Linked DNA regions of Homo sapiens. The protein of the gene in region 3 interacts with the protein of the main gene of each other region in a pairwise test. Each region holds a gene or a part of one and is shown on either strand. Other genes may lie near its edges.

The links. The genes of interacting proteins can lie anywhere in the genome.
Region 1: the proteins of ROR2 (region 3) and LHX6 interact in binary tests that used the Homo sapiens proteins (3 or more experiments, as listed by UniProt).
Region 2: the proteins of ROR2 (region 3) and POU2AF1 interact in binary tests that used the Homo sapiens proteins (3 or more experiments, as listed by UniProt).

Annotation. Positions count from the first base shown.
Region 1 is NC_000009.12:122,225,954-122,232,790, forward strand, and holds the start of LHX6 (LIM/homeobox protein Lhx6), read right to left. Parts: upstream 3,005-6,837; 5' UTR 2,788-3,004; coding exon 2,704-2,787; intron 2,481-2,703; exon of another isoform or gene 2,405-2,480; coding exon of another isoform or gene 2,354-2,404; exon of another isoform or gene 1,847-2,353; intron 1,589-1,846; exon of another isoform or gene 1,528-1,588; coding exon 1,456-1,527; intron 1,078-1,455; coding exon 895-1,077; intron 545-894; coding exon 423-544; intron 1-422. UniProt on the Homo sapiens protein: Probable transcription factor required for the expression of a subset of genes involved in interneurons migration and development.
Region 2 is NC_000011.10:111,355,272-111,362,293, reverse strand, and holds part of POU2AF1 (POU domain class 2-associating factor 1), read left to right. Parts: intron 1-2,903; exon of another isoform or gene 2,904-3,022; intron 3,023-3,375; coding exon 3,376-3,506; intron 3,507-4,456; coding exon 4,457-4,499; intron 4,500-4,583; coding exon 4,584-4,849; intron 4,850-5,860; coding exon of another isoform or gene 5,861-5,878; exon of another isoform or gene 5,879-7,022. UniProt on the Homo sapiens protein: Transcriptional coactivator that specifically associates with either POU2F1/OCT1 or POU2F2/OCT2. It boosts the POU2F1/OCT1 mediated promoter activity and to a lesser extent, that of POU2F2/OCT2. It recognizes the POU domains of POU2F1/OCT1 and POU2F2/OCT2.
Region 3 is NC_000009.12:91,947,210-91,954,637, forward strand, and holds the start of ROR2 (tyrosine-protein kinase transmembrane receptor ROR2 isoform 1 precursor), read right to left. Parts: upstream 3,020-7,428; 5' UTR 2,755-3,019; coding exon 2,658-2,754; intron 1,520-2,657; exon of another isoform or gene 1,398-1,519; intron 1-1,397. UniProt on the Homo sapiens protein: Tyrosine-protein kinase receptor which may be involved in the early formation of the chondrocytes. It seems to be required for cartilage and growth plate development. Phosphorylates YWHAB, leading to induction of osteogenesis and bone formation.

The sequences.
Region 1 (6,837 bases), about 30 Mb from region 3:
GTCCGAGTAGGGTTGGAACTCGAAGCCCGAACGCACTGGAAATGCAGCCGGACGACGGCTGGGATCCGAGTGGGTCCGGGCCAGAAATGGGGACCTCAGAGCTCCACCGAGGCGCTCGAGGTCAGAACTGAAGCCTGAGACTTAGGCAGGACCCGAGACAGAGCCAGAGACGATACCGAAACCCAATGGACCGCGAGGACCGAAGGCAGATCCGGGGCGCAAACCTGTGCAGGCACTGGCGCGCTGCCTGGAGCTCTGGGTTCGCGCCGCTGAGCGCCGGCAGGTTGGACCAGCGCTGCGCGCCGGAAGTGCACTCGGGACGCCGGGGTTCTGGAGGAGAGACCACACGCCGCAAAAGTGGCCTCCGAATGCGCCCGGGGCCTGCCCTCGGCGACACTGCTGGCTCGGCGGCCGCAGCCTACCTGAAGTAGTCCATCTTGCAGAAGATCTCCTTGTTCTTGATGTAGCAGCTGTTCTGCTGCCTCAGCGACGTGCGACACACGGAGCACTCGAGGCACCGCACGTGCCAGATGAGGTTGTTGACCTGGGGACGGGGCGGGGACGGAGGTCGGCTCAGCGCGGGCCTCTTTCACTCCGGGCCCCAGCCTTCCCGGTCTCATTTACAGTCAGAGGCGCTGAAGCTCAGAAGGTGCATGCGATTCCCCTATTTTTCTCCCGTAATACTGAGACTCAGGGAAATGGAAATAAACTCTTCTTATTTTTCAGACGGAACCCGGGGGCTCAGGCAGACCCTAAGTCTTGCCCAAAGCTTCGCAGTCGGGCAGCAGTGGAGCCAGGATTTGGAAGTAAGAGGACCTGCGGTGCTTCCCTGCAGTCTCCTGCGCTGCGTCCCACGCCCCGACAACACGCACGCAACACCTACCCCTGTCTCACCTTGAGCAGATATCGGTCCAGGATCTCGAGGCCGCAGCTGGAGCAGATGTTCTTGCCTGCAGACGGCACGGAGGAGGCGGCAGAGGGCGGTGAGCAGACAGATGGCGTGCTGGGCGTACATGGGGAGGCCTGACCCTCGTCCTTGTCCAGAGCTCCTGCCAGGGCCTCGGCGTCAGACTGAGCCTGCGGCGGGGGAGAGAAGGAGAGGAGCGCTGATCCGGGCACCCAGAGTTGGGGCTGCCTTGGAGACAAATCTGGGGCCCCCGAGCACCAATTGACAACGAAATCTCCCCAGGACAATGCGCCGTAGACTGAAGGACAGGGATGGAAGGGCCTATTGGAGAGGAAGGGACGGCCCCAACTTTTAACACGCGCATTCTGGGTGCTGGGAGCGGTTAAAGCCAACATTCCCTGCCGGAAAACCGAGGCTCAGAGAGGGGCGGCGCCCGCCGGGAGTCCCCCAGAGCGTGAGCAGCAGTTCGTGGCCGGAAAACCTGGCCAGGTCCCCAGGGCCGGGCCGCTGGAGGACTGGGCACCGCAGGCAGGGCCAAACGGACTCACCATGGCGGGCGGCGCGGTCCCTTCAAGACAGCGGGTGGTCGCTTTGCAGCCGGACCCTGGCTGGGCCATCACCTGGGGGAGGGGGGGAGGGAACGCAGGCGGCGGCGGCTGCTGAACTGGCTCCGCACAGCCTGAGCCCAGCGCCTCCCCGCGCCTGTTATATAAACCGGCGCCGAACAATGAGTCCTAACTTTGTAGTGGGCATTTAAAGCCCTTCCCCACAAAAGCGGTGTCTCTCTAATGAAGCAATTTGAATTTGGATTGGATTTTTTCCCTCTCTCTCCCCCTCTCCCTGCACTTAACCCGTGGCTCTTGAAGTAATCGCTTAGTTCCCTTGCAATCCAAGCCTCTGAGGGGGGAAGAAAAACACGCGCACACACACACAAACTACCTGCAATTAGAAATTGTCGTGAATGCCCAAGATAAGAGGTAGCCAGAGTGTCAATTCCAACTGTCAATCAGTGAGATCCATCAGGCCGCCCAAAGAATTGCAAATTTGATTTTTTAATGGTAGTAATTAAAAATCGAATTTTTTCTCTCTCCACCCGCCCCCCCACCCCACTCCCCTTCCTCGCTCCCTTCTCCTCTCGGCACAAAATGCAAAAAGGAGAAAAGAGAGAAAGAAAGAAAATAAAAAAGAGATGGGTGAGGGGCGGAGGGTGGTTGAAGAAAAGAAAACCCCGAGCGCGGTGAGCACCCGCCCGCCCGCCCGCCTGACACGCGCGGCGAAATTGAAGCAGCTATATTGACACGGATTCAGGCGCCTTTCGAGGGCCAGTCGGAGGGAAACCCGGAGCAAAAAGAGAGCGAGATCGGGGCGAAACGGGACCAAAAAGAGAAAAGAGAGGCGCTCAAGGGGAGGAAAAAGCACCCTCCAGCCCCTCGGCGCGCCGGGTACCGGCCCCGCGTCGGGATTCTCAGCGCTGCGCCGGCACAACCCCCGGCGCATCGGCGCTATCAGCGCCTATTCAGACGGACAATACCGGCCTCGCCTCCTCTTGATTCGCCTGTGTCTTTACTAAATCGCTTTTTGAGAAATTCCTCCAACATTTGCATAATGTGTTCCCGCTTTCCGCGACCCCCCCCCCCCGCTCGCGCGCGCGCTCCCACACTCACAAGCACACACTCACAGGCGCACCCTCGTACCCCTCCTTCCTGCAACCGCCCGCCACCCTGCTCGGCCCGGCTGGGTCCCGGACCCTGCCCGACCCCGGCCCGGGCCGCTCACCCAGTCGTTCGCCGGCTCACCTGGTCGGTGGCGGGGCCGCCCTCGGCCGGCAGCCGGCAGCCCTCGGGCAACGCCGGGGCGGCGTTCTCATGCTTCCAGTACATGGGCCGGGGAACCTCGGGCTCAGCGGGCGCGCAGCGCGGAGAGCTGCGCCGAGGGGGACCACAGCCGCAGTGGGAGCAGAGGCTGCTGCAGGAGCAGGAGGAGAGCCGAGGCGCCGGCCCCGCCGCCCCGGGCCCGGCCTCAGCCCCCGCCCCCGGCCCGCGCGCAGCCCCGGCCTCCCTGGCTGCTGCCGCCGCTGCCTCGGAAGAAGGTCCCGACAAACTTGGAGAGGCCCCCGCCCCCTCCTTCTTCTCCTCCTCCCCCTCTTGGTAGTCCTCCTCCTCCTCTCCCTCCTCCTTGTCCTCCTCCCCCTCCAGCTGCAACGGCGGCCGCCCTGCCGCTGGAGCCCCGCTCGGTTCAAGATGAGTCATGCGTGACCAATCCCCTCCCCGCCAAGGGAGAGCAAGACACACACGACGAGGCAGAGACCCAGAGAGAGAGACACACACACAGACACAGAGACACACAGAAACTCAGAGCTGCCGACAGAGAGACTCGGAGACACGCCAGTACACAAAGGCACCGGCGGGCACACATCCACCCAGCTCTCACTACCGCTCCTCCCTCAAGGGGCACCCATCTTCCTCAGACACTGCCCCACTCACAGGTACAGGAGGGACCCATGGCCATACCATCTGCGGAGATAGATTCCGTAGGAGGTCACACGTTATTACACTGTGTTGATGCAATCCCATGCCTGGTACATTTGTGTACACACTAATGTAAGTGATTACCTGTTCACATCATTTACACGGGCACGAGGCACCACACTTACTCTCACACACCTGCACAGATACCTCTGCTCTATAAGAACCAGACAGTGCACCAGCTCCCAGGGACTGAGGTGAAACGGGAGGGTAGTTTCCCTGAATTCTCTTGGAAGGGATTGCTTGGCACATTCCCCTTCCCTTCAGGATTTGCTTAACCACACAGTCCAATGCCCATCCCTTCTTCTCTAGGGTTCTACTGACAATGAGAATGGTAGGGAAGGCAGGAAGGCCCAGGCATTTAGACAGAAGACACTGCCCCCAGACACACAGACACAGAACCTTCAAACCCAAAGATGGAGCCTTACACACACTAACGCCCTGCAGCATACACAAGTGGACACTTAGAGTCTCAGCCCCCTTCTCCACACACAAACTGAGCCTAAAGAGACACATGTAAACATACATCATCTAAAAACAAATAAGCACACTCAGACATAGATCCAGCCCTACAGACACCATGACAGCCTACCCTCACCACATCACACATGTCATCACCTCCATAATTGCCCTCATTTACAGATGTAAACACCCCCCCACACACAATTGTTCTTCCATTTGTACACACAGCCATACTCAAGAGGGCACAGATTTTCACAGAGCTCCAAACCCATGTATAACCTTATGTCCTCTACTCAGGCACCCTCAAATATGTACTTACATCCTTACAGATGGTGAGACAACTATTGATAGGCATTTATAGGCAGACACATCACACACACTTCTGCAGCCATAGATTCCCAATAGTTATAGTCTCAGTTTGCACACACACAGGCAGGTTCTGACAGGCGCAGGTAGTAGAGGATGCCTGCACACCAACACGATACTAAAGATCCACACCCATATTCCCCAAAGATACAAATATCTGTTCCTTTACTGGCATCAAGGTACACAAAAATAGCCCCAGCCTCAGCTAATGGCATTTCCCGCCCTCTGCATCCCAGTCATTCATTGCTCTCAGACACAGAAATTCAGAGTGAAAAGAGTTTCTCTTTGAACCCTAATCTTTTATACGAAGAGAACAAGTTGCAATGTGAAAGCGGGTGAGGTGTATGCATAGGTACACATGTGTACACACATACACATGCATTCTCAAACATGAATACAGAAGAACAACCCCTCCCTCTCAAATATCTCCTTTGCACATAATAATTTCAGCTACTACTGGGATTATTCCCAGTTATTACAGCTACTAATCTGTGCCAGGCATGATACGAGGCATTTTACAATCGTGATCTCATTTTCTTTTCACAATAATCCCGTGAGGTAGCATCTCTCAGCGTGCTTGTTTTACTGATCAAGAGACTGAGGTTCAGAGAGTTCATGTGATATATCCAAAATGGTGCACATGGCTAATTGCCAGAACCAAGGACTTAAAACCACATTCATCTCACATTAGAGCTCATACTCTTGATTTCTAGGCTGCAGACATGACCATGTTTACTTTCTGCACACACACATGTGCACACACACACACACACACACATACACACACACTCCACATTATCTGTTAAAAGACCTGGATGTGACTCCCAGCCTCACCACTTATAGGCTCAGCCTGTTTTCTCATCGGCAAAATGGGAATAACAATAGGACCTGCTTTACCTCCTTCTCTTCCTCCCCTTTGGGTGGCTGGGGGAATTGAAAGGTTAATAAACGTTATAGAATGCTGCACATATGCCAGATTTGTGAGTGCAGAAGGGCCCCAGGAAAGAAGACCATGAAGATCGTACTGGCTTTGCAAAACTTCTTAGACATGAGCCATGGAAGAGGCTTGAGCTAAAACTAAAGGGCAGGTGAAATTTGGATGGGTTCAGGGAGAAGAAGAAAGTATTTCAGGTAGAGAGAGGACCACAAAGGTTCAGAGGCTGGACAAACAAGCTGCTGCACTCTAATGAGGGGGAATGTGAAGCATGTGCTCCTAGAGTGATAACAATAATAACTATTTATTGAGCATTTATGTGCTAAGCCCTTTGTTGTTTACACGCATTATCCTCTTTAATCCTTGCAACTACCCTACAAAAAGGTTATATTATTATCTTTCTTTTATAGTTGAGGAAACAAGCTTACAGGAGTCCCATCTGAAGCTCTGGCACTCAGATTTTAGAACCCAAACTCTTACCTACTATGCAATTCTGCTCCTGAATTCTGATTAAGTGCTCAGATAATAAAAACTGGAGTAAGAGGCAGTAAAGTCAGTAGTGAAGCACAAAGACTCTAGGGCCAGATGGCCTTGATGCCAACCTTGGCATCTGTTTTCTATTCCCTTTATTACTTTATTACTTGGGTAACCCTGGACAAGTTCTTCAGCCACTCATCAGCCTCAGTTTCCTCATCTGTAAAGTGGGGATAACCGAGTTCAACTCCTATGGTTGTGAAAATTACGCAAATGATCCATGTAATAGGGCTCAGAAATATGCCAGGCACACAGTAAGCAAATGATAAACAGCCATCATTATGGCAATGGACCGGCTGAATCTTGTGGTTGTGATTCTACTAGGTACTACATCAAATTCTTTATGAAGGCAGGGGATGAATCAACCAAAAAAAATCAAATCTTCTCCTGAATAACTTACCTAAGGAAGATGCAGAACCATTATTCGAGCCCAGAACTTGCCTAACTTCAAAGAGGACAGAAGTGAAATTACTTTGGAAAAGAAATCTCTCTTCCAATGACTCCTGACTCCATCTTTTTCCATCAGGAAAAAGAGTCCAGATAGGAGTGACCTTGGCAAAATTAGGATTAGCAAACATAGTACCTTCCATTAGGATACTTGATTTCTTCCTATGACAAACTGTGGGTCACTTTGAGTCACTTAGCTTCTCTGAGCCTCAGTTCCTCACCTGCAAAACGGGGAATAATGATACTGACCTCTCAGAATTGAAGTGACAACTAACTATACATTAAAAACTAATATTTTGGCTGGGTGCAGTGGCTTATGCCTGTAATCCCAGCACTTTGGGAGGCCAAGGTGGGTGGATCACAAGGTCAGGAGATCAAGCCCATCCTGGCCAACATAGTGAAACTCAGTCTCTCCTAAAAATACAAAAATTAGCCGGGTGTGGTGGCAGGTGGCTATAGTCCCAGCTAGTCGGGAGGCTGAGGGCTGAGGCAGGAGAATTGCTTGAACCTGGGAGGCAGAGGCTGCAGTGAGCCGAGATTGCACCACTGCACTCCAGCCTGGCAACAGAGTGACACTCGATCTCAAAAAAAAAAAAAAAAAAAAAAAAAAAGAACTAATATTTTTTAAAGTGTTGTAGATTTATTCATTTATACAACCCTGA
Region 2 (7,022 bases), on a different chromosome or scaffold from region 3:
AAATGCTTGAGGGGATGGGTGCTTTATTTACCCTGATGTGATGAGTGTGCATTGCATGCCCGTATCCAAATATCTTGTGTACCCCATAAATATATACACTGACTATGTACTCATAAAGATTAAAACCAAAAATGCTGACGTGGCCATGGGGTGACCCTGAGAAAGAGTGAGTTGAGTGTGGCAGGGCAGGTGCCCTGTTCGCTGACACGTCAGATTGTACCTGGGGCCTGTGGTCATCGCTGGGCACCACCCAGCAGTAGGGAAAGTGGCAAATGGAACTTGTGCAAGAGTGACTCACCCAGAAGGAAGGTGGGGAGACTAAAACCATGTCATTTAGAAATAGCTGAAGGAATGAGAAGTCCCTTCAGACCTAGGGGGACACCTGGTATCTGTCCTCAGATTTCGGAAGGGAATATTACTACTAATACTCATGATAATCGGAGCTCACATGTATTAAATGCTCTGTGCCAAACTCTATTCCAAGCACTTCACATGCAAATCTTAAATTACCCTACAACATACATACCATTATGATCTTCACTTTATAGATGAGACAGCTGTAAATGGACTAAGAAATGTGAGTTTCATTAGAAGGTAATGGAGGGAAATATGGCATGTGTTACCATAAGTTAGCCTCAGTAGGAGGAAGAGCTGTCTGACATGATAATATCCCCCCGAAAGGAAGGTGGAAATGGCCAGAAGGAAGATAATTAAAACCACATGTATTGAGCATCTACCCTATGCCAGACATGGCCTTTGGAGCTCCCCATGTATTATTTTGGTTAATCCTCACAACCACTGTGTGAGAGAAGAATTATTATTCCCGTTTTACAAATGAGGAAATTGAAGCCCAGAGACATTAAATAAATCTAAGAACTTTCCACCAGTAAGTGACAGCCCAGATTTGAATACAGGTATGTGTGGTTCTCAAGTCTACTGTCATTGGTGTTCAGAGCAAAGGTGGAGGCGCACAGGTGGCCCCGGGGCACAGAACCAGGCTGGTTCCCCTGCTAGACACTCCTATAGCAGCCTGAATTTCACAAGTTGTGACACATTCATCTGCTGGTAACTTTTGTTGCTTGTCTTCCCCGTTAGACTGCAAGATCCACGTGGGCGGGGGCTCCATGGGTCCTGTGCAGTGCTGTACTCCTAGGCACTAGAAATATTTGAAAAAATGAATGAATACCAGTAGAGATCTCTTGTTCAGACAGGGGAAGTTAAAATAAGGATAATGAATCTCCTATTGGGATGTTATCGGGAGATTCTTATGTTAAATTAGGAATGGATTATCAGCAGTTGTAATCCCAGTATATTTTCAGAAATACTGGACAGATTTTTTTTTTTTTTTTTTGAGACAGAGTCTCTCTCTGTTGCCAGGCTGGAGTGCAATGGTGTGATCTCAGCTCACTGCAACCTCCACCTCCCAGGTTCAAGCCATTCCCCTGAGTCAGCCTCCCAAGTAACTGGGATTACAGGTGCCTGCCACCACATCTGGCTAATTTTTTGTATTTCAGTAAATATGGGCTTTCACCATGTTGGTCAGGATGGTCTTAATCTCCTGACCTTGTGATCCACTCACCTCAGCCTCCCAAGAGAGATTTTTATACATACAGATTCCTAGGCCTATATCAGCCCCCTAGAATCAGACTTTCCTGGAGCAGGACCTGTACCTGTATATTGCATCATTTCCTGGTTGATTTGCTACCTGGCCAGCTGAGGGACCTTGGAGGATGGGTCTAAAGTCCACCTGAGATACTGGGATTCCTGACCCCCAACATCTGCCCCTGGGACTCATTTCCCACTTCCTGTTGCCTCTGCCCAAGCTTCTCTCTGCCTTCTGGGCTTCAAGGCCAGGCCTTGCTCGTGGCTGGAGCCTGGAGGGAGGTCTGGTGCCGAGTCAGGCATGGGACCTTATCAGCTGGGTATTTACTGAGCAAAGTTCAACCAGGGCAGTGCTGCAGATCCGGGTTTAACAGATACCTAGGCTTCCGGGACTTTGATTCAGAGCCCAGGTCCCTGGGGCCCTTATCGGTGGATAATAATGGGCTCCCTGTGGAAGTCCTAAGGTCTAGTGTTTCTTGGCTGACCCAGGCCTGCTCTCTGAGAGCCCAGGATCCCTAGGCCACAGGCTGTCTAGGTGGGCAGCTTGTTGCTTCCCAGCCACGGCTGCTTTTCAGTTGCTCTCCCAGGCCAGGAAGGGCCCTATGCACTGGCTCTTATTTGGGTCAATGCTTTGGTTTCCTGGCTTTGATGGCAAGAGGGGAAGGAAACCTTCCCTCAGCAGCAGGTGGACACTGTCTGGCCCCAGGGTACAAGGATCACCCTTGGGTAATTGTCCCATGCCCTGAAAGTCACTGAGAACCTGGGAGCCACTTGCCTCAATCCTAAAGGTGTAGGAGAGGTGAAGGGAAGACAAATGGCAGCATGTCTTAAAGAATCACCCAATCGATTAATCAATAAGTATCAACTGAGCTTAAAACGCATGGGCATGCCACTGGGAAGACATAGAGAAATAAGGTACAATAACTCACCTTGAGACGTTTATAATCTAGTTGTGGGTATAAGACACTTCCATCAAAAAGAATAACTATTACATAATAGACTGAATTTTTTTGAATGCCTACCCTGTACCTGAATTTATTTGAGGCATATACTGTTCTACCAATTTCCCACATCAAGTGACTTCTCTCAATATTCCTTTGATAAAGAAACTGAAGATTAAGAGGCACAGAGAGGTTTAGTAACTTGCCCAGGATCACACAGGAAGGTGGTGGCAGGGGCAGGATTTGAGGCCTGTGCTATCTGGCTCAGAGTCCCTGCTCTTATGGCTGTCCTCTACTGCCACCTATGATGAATACTAATCAGATCTGGAAATGTTTGAGAAGCTGTAGAATGTGGAAATTACTCAGGCTGCAGGGGTCAGGCAGGAGGGTTGCATTTGTCTTGTGTCAGCAAGAATCAAGAGGTTGGAAGAAGTGAGAGGGAATTCTGACCACGGAAAACCTCAACCACAGATGAGGAGGTGAGACACGCAGGAACACGTAGAGAACACAGACAGACCTTCTGGTTGGAGACAGGGTTTGTGTAGTAGGGAGTGTGCAAAGTGGTGAGAAAAATGGGTTCGGATCTCATTCTGAAGACTGTCCAATTCTAGGACAAGGAGCTGGGCCTTCGTTGTCTGGGTGCAGGGGACCCACAGAAGGTTTGGGAGTAGGAGGAGTGACAATACTGGAGAGGCATTCTAGGAAGTGTCACGTGGTTCTCCGTGTTCAAGCACGACTTAGGGGAGCAGGCAGATCCATGAGGAAATGAGCACTTTGGGGTGGGGGCTCGTCTGAGAAGGACCATGGGCTCCAGGGACATTGCTTTTCACAGCCACAGCTCCGGAGCAAGCCCCAGCCCCGGCCCGGCCATACCAGGGCGTCCGTGTGAAGGAGCCAGTGAAGGAACTGCTGAGGAGGAAGCGAGGCCACGCCAGCAGTGGGGCAGCACCTGCACCTACGGCGGTGAGAGTTTGTGTGTGTGAGAGTGTGAGTGTGTGTGTGTGAAAGAGAATGTGTGTGTCAGGGATAGTGTGAGAGTGTATGTGTGTGTGAGTATGTGTATGCGTGTGTGTATGTGTTTGTGTGTGATAGAGTGTGTGAGAGTGTGATAGTGTGAGAGAGAATGTGTATCTGCGTCAGTGTGTGAGAGTGTATGTGTGTGTGAGGGAGTGTGAGTGTGTGAGTGTATGCATGTGAGTGTGTATGTGTTTGTGTGTGATGGCGTGTGTGAGTGTGTGATAGTGTGAGAGAGAATGTGTATGTGTCAGTGTGTGAGAATGTATGTGTGTGAGAGAGTGTGTGTGTGTGAGAGTGAGTGTGAGAGTGTGAGCGTGTGTGTGAGAGAGTATGTGTGTGAGGGAGTGTGTGTGAGAGAGTGTGTGAGTGTGTGAGAGTGTGAGTGTGAGAGTGTGAGAGTGTGTGAGAGAGTACGTGTGTGAGAGAGTGTGTGTGTTTGTGTGAGAATGTGTGTGCGCGCAGGCAGATGGCTTGGGAGGTGACCAAAAGGATCAGGCAGGAAGGAGCGCAGGTCCCTTGGTGGAGGCTGCCAGGGATAGAGCTAGGGTGGAGCAACTGGGATGAGGGATCAGGGCCGGCTCAGCTGGCCCACCGAACACAGCTACTGTCAAGGCCTGAGTGAGCGAATGACTTGCATACCCTGGTGTGAGTTGGGGGCCCCCCCTGAGAAGAAGAAGACACCAGCTCCCTGAGCGCACAGACTTCCTGCTAAATAGAAACGCAAATCTCTCAAGTGTAGGTGGTGATGGTTGGGATACGGGGTGGGATGTTTTGTTCTAACCAGAGAGATTCCTATCTTCTATTCTCCTGCCCTGAGGCCCTCTGGGCAAGTTCTCTGCACAGGGCCGGTTGACGAGGGCTAAACATTGACCCTGGTCTTCTCCTCTCCCCTCTAGGTGGTGCTGCCCCATCAGCCCCTGGCGACCTACACCACAGTGGGTAAGAGTGCCCCGTAGCCCTGGTGGCCCCCAGGCCTCTCATCTGGGTGGCATCTGAAGTTCTGTAATTTCCTTCTTCCCACAGGTCCTTCCTGCCTGGACATGGAAGGTTCTGTGTCTGCAGTGACAGAGGAGGCTGCCCTGTGTGCCGGCTGGCTCTCCCAGCCCACCCCGGCCACCCTGCAGCCCCTGGCCCCATGGACACCTTACACCGAGTATGTGCCCCATGAAGCTGTCAGCTGCCCCTACTCAGCTGACATGTATGTGCAGCCCGTGTGCCCCAGCTACACGGTGGTGGGGCCCTCCTCAGTGTTGACCTATGCCTCTCCGCCACTCATCACCAATGTCACGGTATGTCACACAAAGGCAGGACTGCACCCGCCCATGCTGAGTGCACCCTTTTATAACCAGAGCTGACTTCTCGATCCTGATCTTCCTTGCTATTGATTCTCAAGATAATCAGGTCATCAGAGCTCGCCTTGGTCTCCATGGAGGCCTGCTCTGATTCTCATTTCCTGAGATAACTTCCACAAAGATGTCTCGCAGCCTCTCTCGTCATACTTTCTGCTCCTCAGGACTGGGGAGGTCTTCTCTGATTCCCTGTTCTAAATCTCCCCAGCTTCCCTGCAAGCAGTGAGTCTTGGTTCTGAGTTGAAGTTTTTAGTGAATGTGGCACCAGGCGAGATCTACATGGGGTCTTGTGTTGGAACTAGCCTTTCATTTCTATTCAGATAACTTAGGGAGTGATTGTTCACTTAATAATGGGGTTTAACAGAAGATTTCTAGGCTGAACAACAGGTGATATTTTTGATGGTGTCAGACCCACGTGTGGGGTAATTTTTTAAAGTTCTGTCTCTACTGTCAGATTGCCTTGTTCAAATCCCTGTCCCTTCACTTACTAGCTATGTGACTCTGGGTTTAGTGACTTAAAACTCTCTGAGCCTCAGTGTCCTCATCTGTAAAATGGGAATACCAAGAAAAGGGTCGTTGTCAGGATCAAATGAAATAATGAGTGTGGAGGGCTTAGCACAGTGTCTGGCATACAGAAACCACTAATATATGTTAGTTATCATCATATCAAAATCTGCTAACATTAACCAAGGGCTTGATGGGAAAGGAAGAGCCTCTTCCCCCGGGAATGAAGGAAGGAAGGGAAATAGATTTATGTTAATGATTCCTGTTCGACTAAAGGACTGGGAATTTTGCAAGTATTCAAGGGCAAAAAGACCTGTGGTTACAGCTGTATCCAGCTCCAGTCCAGGGAAACCGTGGGAAGTAGAGCTGGGCCTTGAGCAGTCCCAGAGCCCACCTTCGATGGTGGTGCTTGCTTTGGTCCACCTTGTCTCTTCCATTTCCCTCCAGGGTCCAGTGTCATCCTGATGCACCTGCCCCTGCCTCCAAGCACCTTCTATGAAAGGCCTGCAGAAGCCCTTCCCTCCCAGGTCCACCTGCCTACCCAGCAAACCAATTTTGGAGCCTGGATGATGATAGATAAGAAGGAGTTAATCCAACACCTCTCCCAGGCAACTCATTTCCATGTCAGAGGCCTGGGGTGAGGGTGGTGGGTGGAGGACTCACGGCTCCCACCCATTTCATTACCAAGGATTCCTTTCATTATTTATCCCCTTTCATCATTCCCACCTTCTGCTTTGAAAGGTTCTGTATATCAAACAAACAGTATTCATTAAGAATTGATTTATTTGTTTTGCCATTTTGTAAATTAAGTCATCAAAGCTGGCTAGAGCTGTAAGTCCACACTCCTGATCAGCAGAGATAAGACCTGCTGTGTGCTGAGTGGAAGTAATTGTATTCCCGAGCAAAGAAACCTATAGTTACAGGTTTATGACTGGGAAATGTAGAATTTCCATCTGGATTTTTGAAAAGCTGGGAATCATGAGGCTTTCCCGGATTCTGTCTGGTTTCAGGACACTGGGATGGGGACCACTGGCTTAAGTCAAAGGAGAGGAAGTGATTATGCTGTGGTGGGGTGTACACCTCAGCCCGGATTTCAGGAGGCTGGAAGGCCTCTGAGACCATTTCCAGCTCTATCATTCTGTGCAAAAACACCCTAAAGCCTTGCTACTCAAACTCTTGTCCCTGGACTGGCCACATTGGAGTCCCCCTGAGATCTGATTAGACATGCAAAATCCCAGGCCCCACTCTAGACTTCCTGTGCCAGAAGCTGCGTTCTAACAAGATCCCCAGGAGGTTGAGAAAAGCCCTGCCCTAAATGATTCTAACAGTTTGCTGTCAAGACACAGTGACAGTAGGAGGGATATATGACAGGGGAGACAGGGATGGTAGGGGGAGATTTTGGCCTCCCTCTCATGAATCCATGCAGAGAGCATCCTCTTCTATCTGCTTTCCTCAAGTGTGAAAGAAAAGTAAGAATCCAGGTCCCGCCCCTGTTGCAGGCCTGATCTGAGGTTTGTGAGGGCAGTCGCCGTGCAGGTGAGAGGTATGACTCGCAGAGCATTCAGGAGAAGGACTCTAACACTTGGAGGGTCATGGGGGGTGCCCATAA
Region 3 (7,428 bases):
ATAAAGCAGACTTGTCAGTTTTCCATGATTTGCTTTACTAATTAAAAGTTCAGCTTGGCTTTCCAGAGCCCTCTCAGTTACACTGAGTGTCACATAGGGTCCACGGCGATCAGATTTTCAGGGTGACATGCTTTATGAAGTGGACATGAGAGTTAAGCAGGATCTCACAATTATACTGAAAAATTTCAAATGTGTAGCTCTGTGCTTGGTACACAGCCGTAATAAGAAAAATATGTTGCCTTACTATATACATAAAAACTTTTCTTTTTCCACAAAGTCTTCTTATTCAAGATGTTTCCATTTATTTTCTTCTAGATGGATTTCTTCTAGACGGATCACTATCATTATTTATTACCACCATCACTCCAGGGATCTGGGCCAAAAGTAAACACTACACTGCCAAAAATGGGGGCTGGGGGGACCCTAATGCTCCATCGTTCCCCACCTACCCTACCTAGGATTGGTATATAGTCCCAAATCAGTATTTGTCATCAGAGGAAACAGAGTCTTGCTATTAAAATGTGGAATAAGAACTTACAAATCCTTTTAGAAAAACCCCTAAATAGTTTTACATAATAAATTATTTCGTGGATAAAACACACTCAAATAACAGGGACTCCTCTTTTCACAGCAGAAAAGATCCCAAACACTCAAATCTCCTGTAATCATATAATTTTATTATTATTTTGAATAAAAATTATCATACTCTTTGGATTTTGTTAACCTAGCCATACAGAACGAAGAGAATTATATCCTATGCCCTCTCCTATAAAGATTATGAGTATTTCACTAGAAAAAGAACAGGGTTCAAAAATTAAAGAAAACGACTCCAATTGCTTTGTTCATATAAGACATTTGTACATTCACTGGAAACTATGAGTGTTTAAATTCCTTCACCCAAAACTCAAGGAACTTTCCTGTTACAACCACCTTGGCTTAAGCAATGGACCCATCATGCTTTCCTCATCACCCATCTAAAAACCCCCACCACAGCACCGCCCCTCAAAGGCTGCGCTCAACCCTCATGGTCTGCAAGGCAGAGTTTTTGTAGGACAATTAACCGCAGGGTGAACAGCAAAAGCCGCCCAACAGCACGTCCAGCAACGTGTTTAAGCCGCCTCCCCGCCACCCCTCTCCCCCAGCAAAGGGATCTCCTGGGAGATTCTTGGGGGAGGGGTTGCAGAAATCGACAGAGGTCTTGAGTGATGGATACCAACTTAGAATGTGGTCTACTTATTTTATTGTGCACTCTGAGCGGTTTATGCTTTAATGCACAGTGAGATAAACGCAAGCTCCCTTCCCAAATCAAGTAATTAGGAATGTCTGACGTAATCAACATCTGCTTAAACTAAAACCCCCCCCCAGGAAAGACTGTGCAGCCTTTCTGACTCGCGTACCTTGGGCCGGCTAGGGCGGCAGGCCAGGATACCTGGAGCGCGCAGCTCCCAGCAGGACGCAGGAAAAGCAGAGCGTCTCCCAGCCTGCGACTGTCCCGATTCTCACCTTCCTGCAGGAGTGCAGGGATGGGGGATACTGAAGCCCATTTACTAGTAAGAAGTGTCTCACACATTCCGGGGGCTTCAGGCGAACCCCATAGGTCTCTGGCGCTCCTGGGCCTGAAGGCCCCGCCCGCCCTCCTCCACCCCCGCAGGGTGCCGAGAATCCGGCCCGAGGCGCGCGGGCGGGAGGTGCTCCCGGAGTCTGCACCGCCAGAGCTAACGCCGCCTCCTCCAGGCAACCTAGGCAGGTCCCAAGCTGCACTTCCGAACCTCCCCGCCGTTCCTCTGCGCCCCGGATCCAAGCAGCCGAAACCGCGCAGGGACTCGGGGGAAGTGGGGCCCCGGGAGGAAACCCACCTAGGAGCCGGGCCCCGCCCCTCCCGCCGCCAGCCTCCTACAGGTCCCGGGGGTCCCCCCGGCGCGGCCAGAAGGCGGCCGCGCCCCAGCCGCTCAGGGACCCGCGATCCCAGTCACAAACCATTTCAATCCAGATCACACACCACTTCGGCCACCCCAGAGCGGTGGGGGAGAGGAGGTTTCAGGGACCAACAAAAGGGATGCCAAAGAGCCCGTTTCCATCAAGCGGCCCGCGGGCTGGGAAAGTCAGGACCCGGGAGCCGCCGGCGCCCCCACCCCCGCCGCAAGAGCCGCTTCTCCGGGGCCACGTCCACCCCAGGATTCTGCCAGGCATCAGGCCGCCCTGGGGGTGGGGGGACGCTCCGAGACAGACGGGGGACACTCGGGGCCGTGTGCCCTTGAAGGAGGAAGACCTCGGGGAGGAAGCCCGGGTCCTGGGACCCTCGGGGCACATCTGCGGACTCGGGTCCCGGGCCCAGGGCGGGTACTCACATTCACACTCGCACTCCCACTCGCGACCCTCGGGAAGCGCCACCGAGAGGCTCCCAGCCGCCGCCGCCCGCCCCCAGACTCTGGAAACACTTAGGCGTCCCCAGAGCGCGGCTTATTGTAACCAGCCCGAGGGGGTCCGGGGTGCGGGCCGGGAGCGGCGTCGGGCGAGATGCGAATGGCCCTGCCTGGCGCCCCTCGTTCAGGAGCATGGGCGCCGGCGCAGCGGCCGGGAGCATAGTGGCGGCGGAAGGGCTGGCCAAGCGAGCCGTGAGCTACCGTCTGCGCACAAGCCGGAACGCCAGATCCTACCTGAAGTCCGGGACACTGAGAGCAGAAGCGCGGCGGCCGCCCAGACGGCCGGGATGCACAGCAGCGGCCGCCGCGGGAGCGCCGAGCCCCGGGCCATGCCGCAGGCAGTGGGGGCCGGGAAGCCCTCAGAGCTTCGGGCCGGGGCGCGGGGTCGGGCGCCACCACCCCTTTCTACGATGCGTCCGCTCCTCCTTCTCCCTGGCGCTTCGCAAACGGGTCCACTTCGAGGACCTCGTCGTCGTCCTCTTCTCCGGCCCGGATGCGCCGCTCGGCTCCGGCCACGGCAAGGGCTGGCTGGGGAGGTTCCTTGGCGCGGGCTGGGGCGTCCCGCCGGCCGCCAGGACGAGCGCGGGGGGCGGACCGCGGGCGAGCGCGCAGGAGGCAGGGTCCCCGCTCGCCCGCCCCGATGGGCAGAGCGAGGCTTGCGCCGGCGCCCCCTGCCGGGGGAACGCGCGGGCGGCGGGCGGGACCCAAGGAGCTGGGGCTGCAGCTGGGGCCCCGGACCTGCCTCCTGCGCCCGCCCTCGGGCCTGCGCCTCGGAACGCTTGAACACAAAGGTGGCGCCTTGGGGGCGTCAGCCGGAGTTCGGCGGGTCTGCCCACGCAGGAGAGGCGCCCAGAGCGGGTGCCCCCGACTTTCGGGGGCGACACACCCGGGGATCTAGGTCACAAATCAGTAACTCCAGGCTGCACTGCGCACCGGGACAAATCTGAGAGCCACCCAGCCCCAGACACCAGCGGTGAGGCAGGAAGAGGAGAAGCGAAAGTTGCAAAAGGAAATGTTCAGGAAAACAAACAGGCCGCCTTGGCACCGGCGCCCTCCCAGGTCGGTGGGGACAAGCGCGTCCCCCGAAATGCTCAAAACTGCCAGGGGTCGAGCTGCGTGGAGGGAGCCCTCGGGAGCGCGATGCTATCCGAAGCCACCGCGGCTTTTGGTTTACTGTTAAAAGCAAATTGTATAATTTTACCCATTAAAGGCAGAACACTATTTGTTCTCTGCAGAGGCCCAGAATGTGCAGAATTTGCTTCACTTATTAGAGACATTTTGAACGGAATTCAAATAGCATGTTTTCTTGCTTATTCTTGGTTTTGCTCAGCACATGCAAATGTCTTTGTTTTTCCTCTTAGAGGAAGGAATTGGATTCTCCAGCATCTCAGTTGCTTGTTCCATGAGATTGATCTTTTAACTGATTATCCAGCAGTTTGTTTGGTGTTTTTGCTGGAGTACCAAGCTCTGTTAATTGGAGGGCATTAGGGAGAGCCCTGGCCTTGGGTGCCAGACGTGAGGCCTCAGACGTGGCCAGAAATAAAAACTCTCTTGCTATGGTCTGCGGACAAAATGACTAAGCCAGCTCTAGCTTGTTACCTCTGTTAAAAGTATTTAGGCGTCCGGCTATCTCTACCCAATTTGTGTAGGGAAATATCTCACGCAGTTCTCATTCCCAGGAGCTGCTGTAAATCCAGTAGGAGAATGGGAGAAGATCCTAGCCCCTCCTCAACTGGATGGCAAAATTATTACCAAACTTCTTAGACGGGCTCAGGCTGTTCCTCTGCCCAGGCTGGTGCGGGTCTGAACGGGGGGGCTGCTCTCCCCAGTGGTTAGAGGACTGCCAGGGGTTTATCTTTGGGGTTTTCCTCCCTTTAGCTTCCCTTAGAATCCTTAAGGATGCTTTTAGAGTAATGTTTTAAGAGTAGGTGCTGAAGCACTTAGTTCCACACCCCTCTCTTCTGGATCTAGGGAAAACCCAACAGGGGCTGCAGAGAAGGGTCTTGAACCTGCCCTGGAAAACCCCTCCCTCAGCAATGCTGTGTCCTTTCCGTGGTGCTGTGCAGCTCGGAGAAGGTGGTCCCAGCACCTTTGCTTTCCACTTCACACAGCGTGAGCATGTGGCTCCAGAACCATTTCATCAGCAGCCCTGCCATTTATTTTTGTGTGACCTTCAGGAAAATGACCTCATCATGCCCCCATCTGTGTGTTATTTTCACATGACTGAGGCCCCACAAACCCAACTCAAAGGTTTAAACAGCAACATATATTTTGCTGACAGTTTCTTGGGTGGAGTCAGAAATGTGGGTTATATTGCATATGATTTCTTAAAAGCCTTTTAAAGCTTTCTTTTTTGGCATTTCTCTCTCACTCTCTCCTTCCCTTTCTGTAGGTTCTGAACTGAAGGATAAACAAAAAAAGCAAAGTTGGAAGGATGAAAATACAAGCTTTCTCAGTGGTTAAGAGAATATGGCTTACGTCCAAGGCCAAATTGGAGCAACATATTCCTTTCCATCTGTATTAGTCATCAATTGCCACATAACAAATTGCCCCACGATTTAACAGCTAAAAACAGTAAACATTCGTTATTTCACACCATTTCTCTGGGTCGAGAAGGCAGGAGAGACTTAGCTAGATGGTGCTGGCTCAGGGTCTCTCAGGAGGTTGCAGTCAGATGTCAGCCAGTGCTGCCATTATCTGAAGGCTCGCTGGGGCTAGAGGAGTCTCACAAGGTGGATTACTCACATGCTCAGCAAGTTAGTGCTAGGTGTGGATGGGAAGACTCAGTTTGTAGCCACGTGGGCTTCTTGGGCATCCTCACAAGATGGCTTCTAGCTTCTCCCAAAGTGAGCAATCCAAAAGAGAGCCAGATAGAAGCCACAGTGTCTTTTATAGCCTAGCCTTGGAAGTCACATGCCATAATTTCTGCAGTATCTATTGGCTCCATGGGTGGGCCCTTTGTCATAGAAGGAAACTAAACAGGTTTATATATACCAAGAGATAGGAATCACTGGAGGCTGACACCACACCAGCTGTATGGGGACAGCCATTTTCATCCTTGTGATGAACAGCAAGCAAGAGGGAGAGAAAATGAGCAGGGTCTATACTAGCAAGACCGGCGGGAACAAGCCCTTGCAGGCCTTAAGAAAGGAGGGAGCCATGCACATATCTGGGAAGAGTATTTGAGCTGGAGTGAAGAGCCAGTGTGAAGATTTCAAGGCCAGGGGTATCCTGGGATATCTGAGACCTGGGTGGTTAAATTATGTGGTTTAATTCACATTTTCCTGATGAGGAGTCATATTCTATATTTTTTCTTATGCTTATTGGCCGTTAGCCTACCTTCTTTTGTCAGATGTCTAGTCAAATTTTTGCTGATTTATTTTTATTTTTATTCTTTGTCTCCCTCAAATCATGGAATTTCTTTTCTTCTCTGATTTTTTCATAAGGTTGGATGCCTTCTTCTTTTCAAGTGTTGCCCAGGCATGGTGGCTTTTGCCTCTAATCCCTATACTTTGGGAGGCCGAGGTGGGAGGATCACTTGAGCCTAAGGGTTCGAGACCAGCCTGGGCAACATAGTGAGAGCTTGTCTCTACAAACAATAATTTAAAATTAGCCAGGAATGGTGGTGAGCGTCTGTAGTCCCAGCTACTCGGGAGGCTGAGATGGGAGGATCACCTGGGCCCAAGGAGTACGAGGCTGCAGTGAGCTATGATTGCACAACTGCACTCCAGCCTGGGCTGCAGAGTGAGATCCTGTCTCCAAAACAAAACAAAAAAAAGTTTTTAGAGCTCTTTTTTGTATGTTCTGAGTGAAAACTCAAAGAGACAGATATATTTTCTTCCAGTTTCTGGCTAGTTTTCATTTTTTTAATGATGTCTTTTCATAAGTTGCGGTTTTTCATTCTGCTGAAGTCCAGTTTATCCATTCTTTCATTTGTAGGTAGTGCTTTTTGAGTTTCAATAAATACCAAATCAGACCCCTCCCCCGCTACAAAAAAAAAAAAAAAAACGATATGGAGTATCTGGGCATACCAAACTTCACTGCGTGGACGTGGAAAGTAGGTGACTACAGTCCAAGGCCTTGGGCCCACCGCGCTTTTGTGAGGAATACATGCAGACCAGTGTGGTAGAGTTTTTCACTTGCTTATTACTTTTTCAGTTAGGAAATCCTCAGCTGAATTGTACCCTTCTGCTCCACTAGCAGGGAGCTCTACAAATATCCCACTGCAAACAAGATAAATCGCCAGACGTGTCAAACACAATGGCTTCATTTCCTCACTCCACACTCCTTGCCAGTCTGCCACCCTGAATCCACACAAGCAGCTGGGTGTGGTCATCCATGTACTGAACCAACATACATTTTTGTTCTTCTCTCACGCAGTCTCTCTGCAGCATTTTACCCTAGACCATTCCCTCTTCAAAACATGTTTTCCCTCGGCTTGTATGATATCAAGAGCTCCTGGTTTTGCTTCTACTTATTTAGCCATTTCTCCTTGTTCTTCTTTGCACCTTAACCTCTTCCACTTGGTGATTATGCTGGTCTTGGTCCTCTGCCATCCTCTCATCTTGCTCCACACTCTCCCGGTGGGAAATCTCTTCCAAGCTCATGGCTTCCAATGTCACCTATGTGCCCAGCACCTCCTAAATCTGTAACTCCAGCCTGGCATGCTCCCCTGACCTCCAAACTTACATTTGCAGCTGCCTGCCTGGCGTTTCCACATGACTGTCCCAATGGCACCTCAAACTCAAGTTATTTAAATCATGGACTCAAGCTCTACATCGCCCTACCCCAAACCCTGCCCCAAACCTCATCTTTTTCCCACGTTCCCTCCTGCACTTGATGGCACCATCATCCGTGTAGTTCCACAAGATCAGAAGCCCAACCCCCTCCTTGCCCTCTCTCCTATGTGCACTTAGCATCACGGCCTTTGGTCTCCACCCAATGCCCTCTGCCTCCCGTCCTCTCTCTCTATCACCATCACCCTAGCCGGAGATGCTTGTCTCGT